Linked DNA regions of Homo sapiens. The protein of the gene in region 2 purifies or fractionates together with the protein of the main gene of each other region. This does not show direct contact. Each region holds a gene or a part of one and is shown on either strand. Other genes may lie near its edges.

Region 1 (3,658 bases), on a different chromosome or scaffold from region 2:
AATACTATTTTGAACTGGGCAAAATCTAGCCCAATATGTAATTGTGTTCCCCTTGTATCTGAGAGGCCTGTGTTGGACAACCATAGTACTCTGCTTTCACTGTGCTCAGATAACCTGAAATATATAGTTGTTTCTGAGTAGTTCTGAGTAGGAAAGAACCAAATGTAAATTTCCTTAGAGACCATCCTGGAGAAGACAGTTCTAAATCGGGGCTTGATTTTTCATCTATGATCCTAGATGTTCTCCTGAAAGAATGACTAGCCTTTTTATAACGATACAAAGTTTTTTAAAAATACATAAATGTCATAAAGTTTATTCCTGTGTATACACACTCTGGGTTCAGGAGGTTTTGTGCTTACATTTCACTACTCAAATGCCTTCGCAAATCTCAGAACATTCCTCACCATCACTGCAGGCCTGTGAACAGATAACTTTCATCAATTAGGATGGCTGGCTAGTGGCAGGGACTTCATATAAAGAAATCTTTCCCAGAATTGTTTTTCCACATTGCCTTCTAATTTGATCACTCCCTATAACAGATGTTCAAAATTCGGCCACAGCTCTCTTATGAAGGCAGAGTCAGATAAAATGATATTCTGCAATTATCTAGATCATAAGCATAAAATAAATATTACAAAAATGATTGTATTTAAAGAAATTTTTTAAAATCCAGAAAGTCATTTAAAATAGAACCTCATATAGTATGAACAAACTATAAAAATATTTTACATTTCATGAAAATTTTGCTGTCGTCTCATTTATATTCACTGTATACAAATTGAATCAGTATCTTTCAGCTAAATTTATGAATTTAAATTTATGAATTTTGTTTCTTCGTTTCCATGTAAGGTAACACTTATACTTGTAAAGGGTAACAAAGAATTACATCCAAGGAAATAGTTGTGTGATAGTCAATATTTTACATAGTACATAATACATATGAAGTATAGGCCCCCTAGTCTTTGCACAGCTTTGATTTTAAAGTTATTAGTGAGGTATGGTTTCTGTATTTTCTAAATCAGCGTGTATCAGGTAAAGTGCAACACTCACAATCTTTTGTTTCAGAATATAACAAAAGATTTGAAGATTACTCCTGGGTATGCTTGATAAAGGTGTGTTATAGGAAGAATAGATAGGAAGAATGGTAAATATATACCTACATAAAAACACATGTATATATACAGAAAGAAAGATGGTGAAATCCATAATTATAAAAAAATAATTATCCAGAAGTAATTTCACTAAGCTCAAACCAGTGTACATGTTCAGTCTGAAGTTTGCCAGTTTGGCCTATAATACTATAATATTCATAGTCTGCTGAAAAAAAATGGTTGTTGGAACACAGCCCGTAGGAAATGTATTATAAATAAAGGGCTTTAAAGTGATAATGGTCCACTCGTTAGAAAATTTGGGAACAGCTCTCTAAAAAATTATATTTTTAAAGAACATATTTTGAACAAGTATCAAAGATGTATTTGAAATGAACCTCTGCCCACCCAGTGGGGTTCATTTTACTGAGGCAAGCACATATGGTAAGTAGTATTTCAAGTCTAAGACTTCTCCAGTATAATTTAACTCAGTTATACTTTCATTTCAAGATATCTTCAAGGGCTTACTTTTCTTGAATAAATTGAATGCTTTAGTGTTTCTCTACCCATTTAAAAGCTGAGAGATTATCTTTGGCTGTATTATTACCTTTGCAGTTCTTCTATCTCAAAGAGTAATCATTGCTGAGATTTTCCCCTTGCATGAAGACATAATATGTCACAAGATCATGAGTAAAAGAAGTCCAAACAAAATTCATTTTTTCTTGTAAACAGTGTCTTTTAAATTTCTTTACTACAACCTGAGTCTGTTTTCCATTCTCTCAATTTGAAAGAAGTCCTTAATCATCATTGCTTTTACTGTTGATATAACTCCAACTGTCTCTTCTGTTTTCTTCTTGTAGGATAGATTTGTATTGTCTTTTAAAGAAGCCAGCCTGAAAATAGCATAACATAATCACTAGTGTATAGTTATGAACACTCTCTTATCTACTATACTCATTTCTAATATCTAAGCAGTTAACACCAATATTTCTTAAACTGCATCCCTTGTAACATCAGTCATAAAGGTTTAACAGAGGTAATCAGTAAAAATTAGTGGGGACATACTGGGTTAAAGAAACATTTTTGTTTTTAATGCAGAAATTCTCAGTGATACACACCACATTCTCTCCAAAATTGACATTCCGTGTAATTTGCAATCTTTTCCAAATGGTTTTTTAAAAGGAACGTCTGTCTTTCAAAACAAATTAAGAATGCATATTTTTCTAGAAAGACTTTGGTGTTGAAGAGAAATGTGAGATCAGTACTGAGCAACATAAAAAGTTAACATTCAAATAGTGAAATATTTAAATCTAATAACTTGGAAGTCAAATTGGCTTTGAGAAAATGTCATTTTTAGTAGACTAATGTTGGTAATTGTTAAATGCTTACCTTCCACATAACATATGAGATCAATAGAAGTACAATAAGTCCAAGTAGCAAGCTACTTGAAATAATCACTATGGTGAAATAACGTTTGGGTCTTTGATGATGTAGTCCTTCCAGTAGAACCTACGTGAGTTAAGAAAAATAAAACTCAAAAACCAAAAAAAAAAATCAGTTTAAAACGTTGCTTATATTTCCTTTAAAGCCCTGCCATAATCCCCAGTAGTATTTAGAACTGCCCAGCCCATTTTCTTGCTGGTTCTAATATAATTGCAGGAAACACTGGTAACTGTTTAGCAGAAACAGTGAGTGTAATGGGCTGTATCCATGACTTTTCCTCCAATCTATTCAATTCTCACTGCTGCCCAATTCACCTCTCTGAAAGAACTGCTGTATTGTTCCCTCCTGCCAGTTGTGGAAAATGCCAACTCTCAACCAAGTATTGGGGGCCCTCCATGAGCTGGTCACACTCTACTTTCCCAACTCAGTTACTCAGAAGGAAGTAATTATAGACACCCTTGAAATGTGTTTTCCTATAATTTTAATGTAGCAGTTAAGAGGGTAATCTTACATGCGCAACATTCTCATCCTTGTTTAGTTCAATTACTCTTGGATTTGGCTCTGGAAAACCTGTTGCTCTTATTTCAAACTTGAGTGCTGAAGTCTCATCCTGTTTAATAAAAGAAGGATCACCATAGCCTGGTTTATTTCATAAAGACATAATTTATCAGGATCTTTACCTTCTAGCTAGAGGTTTTCACAATTTACCTTCCCCAATTTATTTCACCACTTAAAATTAACTGCAGTGCCTCCTTTGGTTCCCAAAGTGTGGTCTTGGTATTAATTTATATAGTATCATTTTATTGAAATCCTTTGATTAAACAGCTACCTTGCAAATAACTTGATTTAAATATTAGACTACAGAAAGAGGTAAGTTACCATTTACCATTGTTCTCCACCCCACCACCGCATATTGAATCTATCTTATTTGGGCTTTTTATTTCTTTCTAAATTAAATACATTATAGAATTCAAATATAAAATCAGTGGATGAACTCAGAACTTTACTATCTAAAGCAAGGATTTTATAACGCAGAATCCATGAAGCTTGGGGATCTGTAGAAGGGCTTTATAAATTCTAAGAATCTTTAGGAGATGTTTTCATGTGTGCATTTGCTGAGGGAGATG
Region 2 (3,658 bases):
GGACTTACTACAGCCAAGGATTTGACTGCCTTTGGCAAATTATGGGAGTATTGGAACATCACAATAAACAACGGGATAATAACTCATTGAACAAATTAACAATCTCTGAGTCCTTACTCTGATTTTTTAAAATGAATAAATAAATGGGTGAGAAGGGAAAGTTATTCCTTCCAGTAGATTGCCTACTAATAATATTTGAAGGAAAAAATTATTTTAAAAAATCATCAGTGGATGCCAAATCCAGGGGGTGAAAGTTTGGTGAGGAAGGGATATTTGCAAGGTTTCAAAAACTCCCTGAAAGTTACCTAAAGAGAAACCTTGTAACTTTACAATGGAGACGCTTGGTGGACACTACCTTAAGCAAGCTATCAAAGGAAGCATCAGTAATAATAGTTCAAACCAGCACAATGTGTCTCTAATGTGATTTCCTGAGAGAGACACATCACTTCTGTGATAGTCCTGACAGAAAAAAAAAAACAAAAAACTTAACTTGCATTTTTAAATCATGAGGAAAATCAGACAAACTACAACTGAGGGACATTCTCAAAATAGCCAGCCTGTATTCTTCAAAAATATTAACTTTAGAAAGACAAAGAAGGACTAAGGGACTGGTTTCAGTTTAAAGGAGTCTAAAAGGGCATGACACTAAGTGCAATGCAGCATTCCAGACTGGGTACTGCACTGGGGGAAAAAACATTCAAAAAGACATCATTAGGTTAGTTGATAAAATTCTATTACAGACTGTGAATTAGATAGTTGTATTAATGTTAAATTTCTTGATTTTGATGACTGTACTATGTTTATTTTAGAGAATGCCCCCGTGCTTAAGAAATATGCTCTGATGTTAAGGGGTAAAGGGAGAGGATGTTTCCATGTGCTCTGGAAAGGAAGGGGAAGGGGTACAGGCTAAAACGTAAACAATTGGTGAATCTAGGTTAAGTATTTCTAGGAATTCCTAGTACCGTTCTTATAACTTTCCTATGAGTCTGAAATTATGTCACAATAAAGTTACCCAAGAAAAGCCTCAGTTAAGAATTCATTCTGCAATAGAACAATCATTGATTAGTTTTGTGACATTAACAGTTTAGTCAATTGAAGTTTCTAAACATCTTGCAGATTGTAGTTAATTGCAAGTATATCAGACTCTAAAAAAGCCTGTACACTTTCCCAGAGTTTGAAAGTTTTATAAGATCCACCAAGCTCCAACCCCATGTTTAGTCAGCTGCCTTTTCCTTCTGAATTCTTCTGACTTCTGATGTCTTCCAGAGGCAGGGGAAAAGGAAAAGTCACTCCTTGCAAGAATGTCTCCTCTGAGTCACACCTCAGAAATAGGCCAGCTAACTAATTTGAGAAGATGAGTGTGTGTGAGTGTGCGTGCGTGCATGCGCGCACCACACACATCTTCGTGTGTGGGAGGTGAGAGGAAGGAGGAAGTGGAATTACACTTTCCTAAGCTATAGCCATGGGGTATGTTTTCAAATACTCTATTTTACTCTTGGCTGGATGCCAGAATATGAATATATATATATATAATATAATATATATATAAAATATAATATAATATATATAATATATATTCCTAAGATCCCAGGAAAGAAAATAATTTTCAATCCTTTTCTCACCTTCTCTCTTTAAAAGACATTCTGCTTGATTGTAGGCAAAAACTACCTTCCTAAACTAGCGTATTCCTGAGCTTGCCAACGGACATGGAACAGAACAGTGTGGGAGATTTCTCTGTGCGGTGTGTTTGGCCCAGCTCAGTGGTCCTCTCAGCAAATGTCAGTCACAGCAAGTCTAACTCAATCACAGTGACCCAGATATAGATACAGTGACATTCATCAACCCGAAGAGCTATATAATGTTTATTTTCTTTTTCTTTTTTAAAGTTCAGAGCCAATATGATTTTATGGGGAAAACCCTTTTCTAAGAGCAAACATTCTTACATTCTAATCCACTTCAGCTACTAAAGTGTGATCTTGACCAAGTCACAAAACCCCAGACTTTTAGTGTCCTCATCTGTAAAACCTGGTCACCAGAGCATGTATAGCCTCCTCACAGCGTTATGGGGAAGTGAGAAGGCGTAGATTACATGTAGTAATACATTTGAAACTCCCTTAAAATTTACATAATGTGGTTAGGATATACCTCATTCTACATCTTATAAATCTAGAATGCTAGTGCTTTCTGACATAGCACTTTCACAATCTGAAATATTTCAAATCCTTTCATTTGACTGCAATATATACTGGAACAAAATTACTTGGTGTATATACACTATAGGCAATGTAAGCATTTTTAAAATGGTAACCTGTTCTTTTTCTCATGAACTTCAGAATAACTCAAAAGCTCCTTTTTATATATCCTAAATTCCATCAGTTGGCCCTAAACTTTTCTAAGTGTGTGCAAAGTTGAAAACAAGGAATAAGAGATAACAATACAAAACAATTCTAGATCACAACTTCTTTGGGAAGATTTTATTCAGTGATTAAAATCAGATGACTTGTCTTGCAAATTAAGAGAAAAAGGCTGACTAATAGCACAATATGTTCAGGAGTGACTTGTGGGTACGTCCTGAATAATTATCGCGCCAGGCAAATGTGTTGGAGTAAACCACCTTCCCACAAGGGCCTCCCTATGCCACATTAATAAGTCACTTACTAGACCTAGCACAATAAAATGATAGTCTATGCAATTTAGTCGTTTCCAAAAGGGAAGAGCATTTCTCTGGCATCTCTGAGTGGATCAGATCAAGGTGACTTTAAGAAAACTGAGGGAGAAGGGGCGATGGCACAAGTTATGGCTTGGATCACTCTGAATTGACTCTAAAAAAAAAACCAAAAAAGGTACCTAATTATCTCATAAATCATCTGGCATGCTGTTTCCAGTGAAGACTCTCTGGCTGTGCTGAGCAATTTTATAAGTTGAACCAGCAAAATAAACAGCAAGTTTTGGGTGAAATCCTTAAACACAGAGCTTCTGATTCGGGACAGGTAGTCACAATTGCTAGGGGTCTATATAGACTAAATAAAGGGTTCCAGAATTACATAGAGGAGCAGCTTGGTGAAAAACAACCCCTCTAGATTGTTCAGACCTCTATGTATTTTTATGGTGGTTTGAATGAACCAGTTAGTTATTTAACTTTATTTTCCAATTTTTTTTTTCTATGTAGAAGATATTCAAGGTCAAGTAAAATTTCTTTTTGTTTTCTTGCTTCCAAAATAAAAGAAATTTACTTAGCCTCCTGCAACAAGTAAACAAGACCAAAAAGAAAATGTATTCTTTTTTTGTTTGTTTGAGATGGAGTCTCACTCTGTCACCCAGGCTAGAGTGCAGTGGCGCGATCTTGACTCACTACAACCTCCGCCTCCTGGGTTCAAGCAATTCTCCTGCCTCAGCCTCCAGAGTAGCTGGGATTACAGGCATGTGCCACTACCCCCGGCTAATTTTTGTATTTTTAGTAGAGGCGGGGTTTCACCATGTTAGCCAGGCTGCTCTCGAACTCCTGACCTCAGGTGATCCGCCCACCTCAGCCTTCCAAAATGCTGGGATTACAGGCATGAGCCACCTCGCCCAACCTAAAATCTATTCTTTATTGACATTTTTATTGACAATGGGATAATAGCTCAGCATACTAATCTAAGAATATAATGAACAAACT

What was found. The genes of interacting proteins can lie anywhere in the genome.
Region 1: the proteins of ENPEP (region 2) and ITGA4 fractionate together in Homo sapiens (co-fractionation; one large-scale study listed by BioGRID). This does not show direct contact.

The regions. Positions count from the first base shown.
Region 1 is NC_000002.12:181,533,755-181,537,412, reverse strand, and holds part of ITGA4 (integrin alpha-4 isoform 1 preproprotein), read right to left. Parts: intron 3,142-3,658; coding exon 3,043-3,141; intron 2,598-3,042; coding exon 2,478-2,597; intron 1,982-2,477; coding exon 1,886-1,981; 3' UTR 1-1,885. UniProt on the Homo sapiens protein: Integrins alpha-4/beta-1 (VLA-4) and alpha-4/beta-7 are receptors for fibronectin. They recognize one or more domains within the alternatively spliced CS-1 and CS-5 regions of fibronectin. They are also receptors for VCAM1.
Region 2 is NC_000004.12:110,482,645-110,486,302, reverse strand, and holds part of ENPEP (glutamyl aminopeptidase), read right to left. Parts: intron 1-3,658. UniProt on the Homo sapiens protein: Regulates central hypertension through its calcium-modulated preference to cleave N-terminal acidic residues from peptides such as angiotensin II.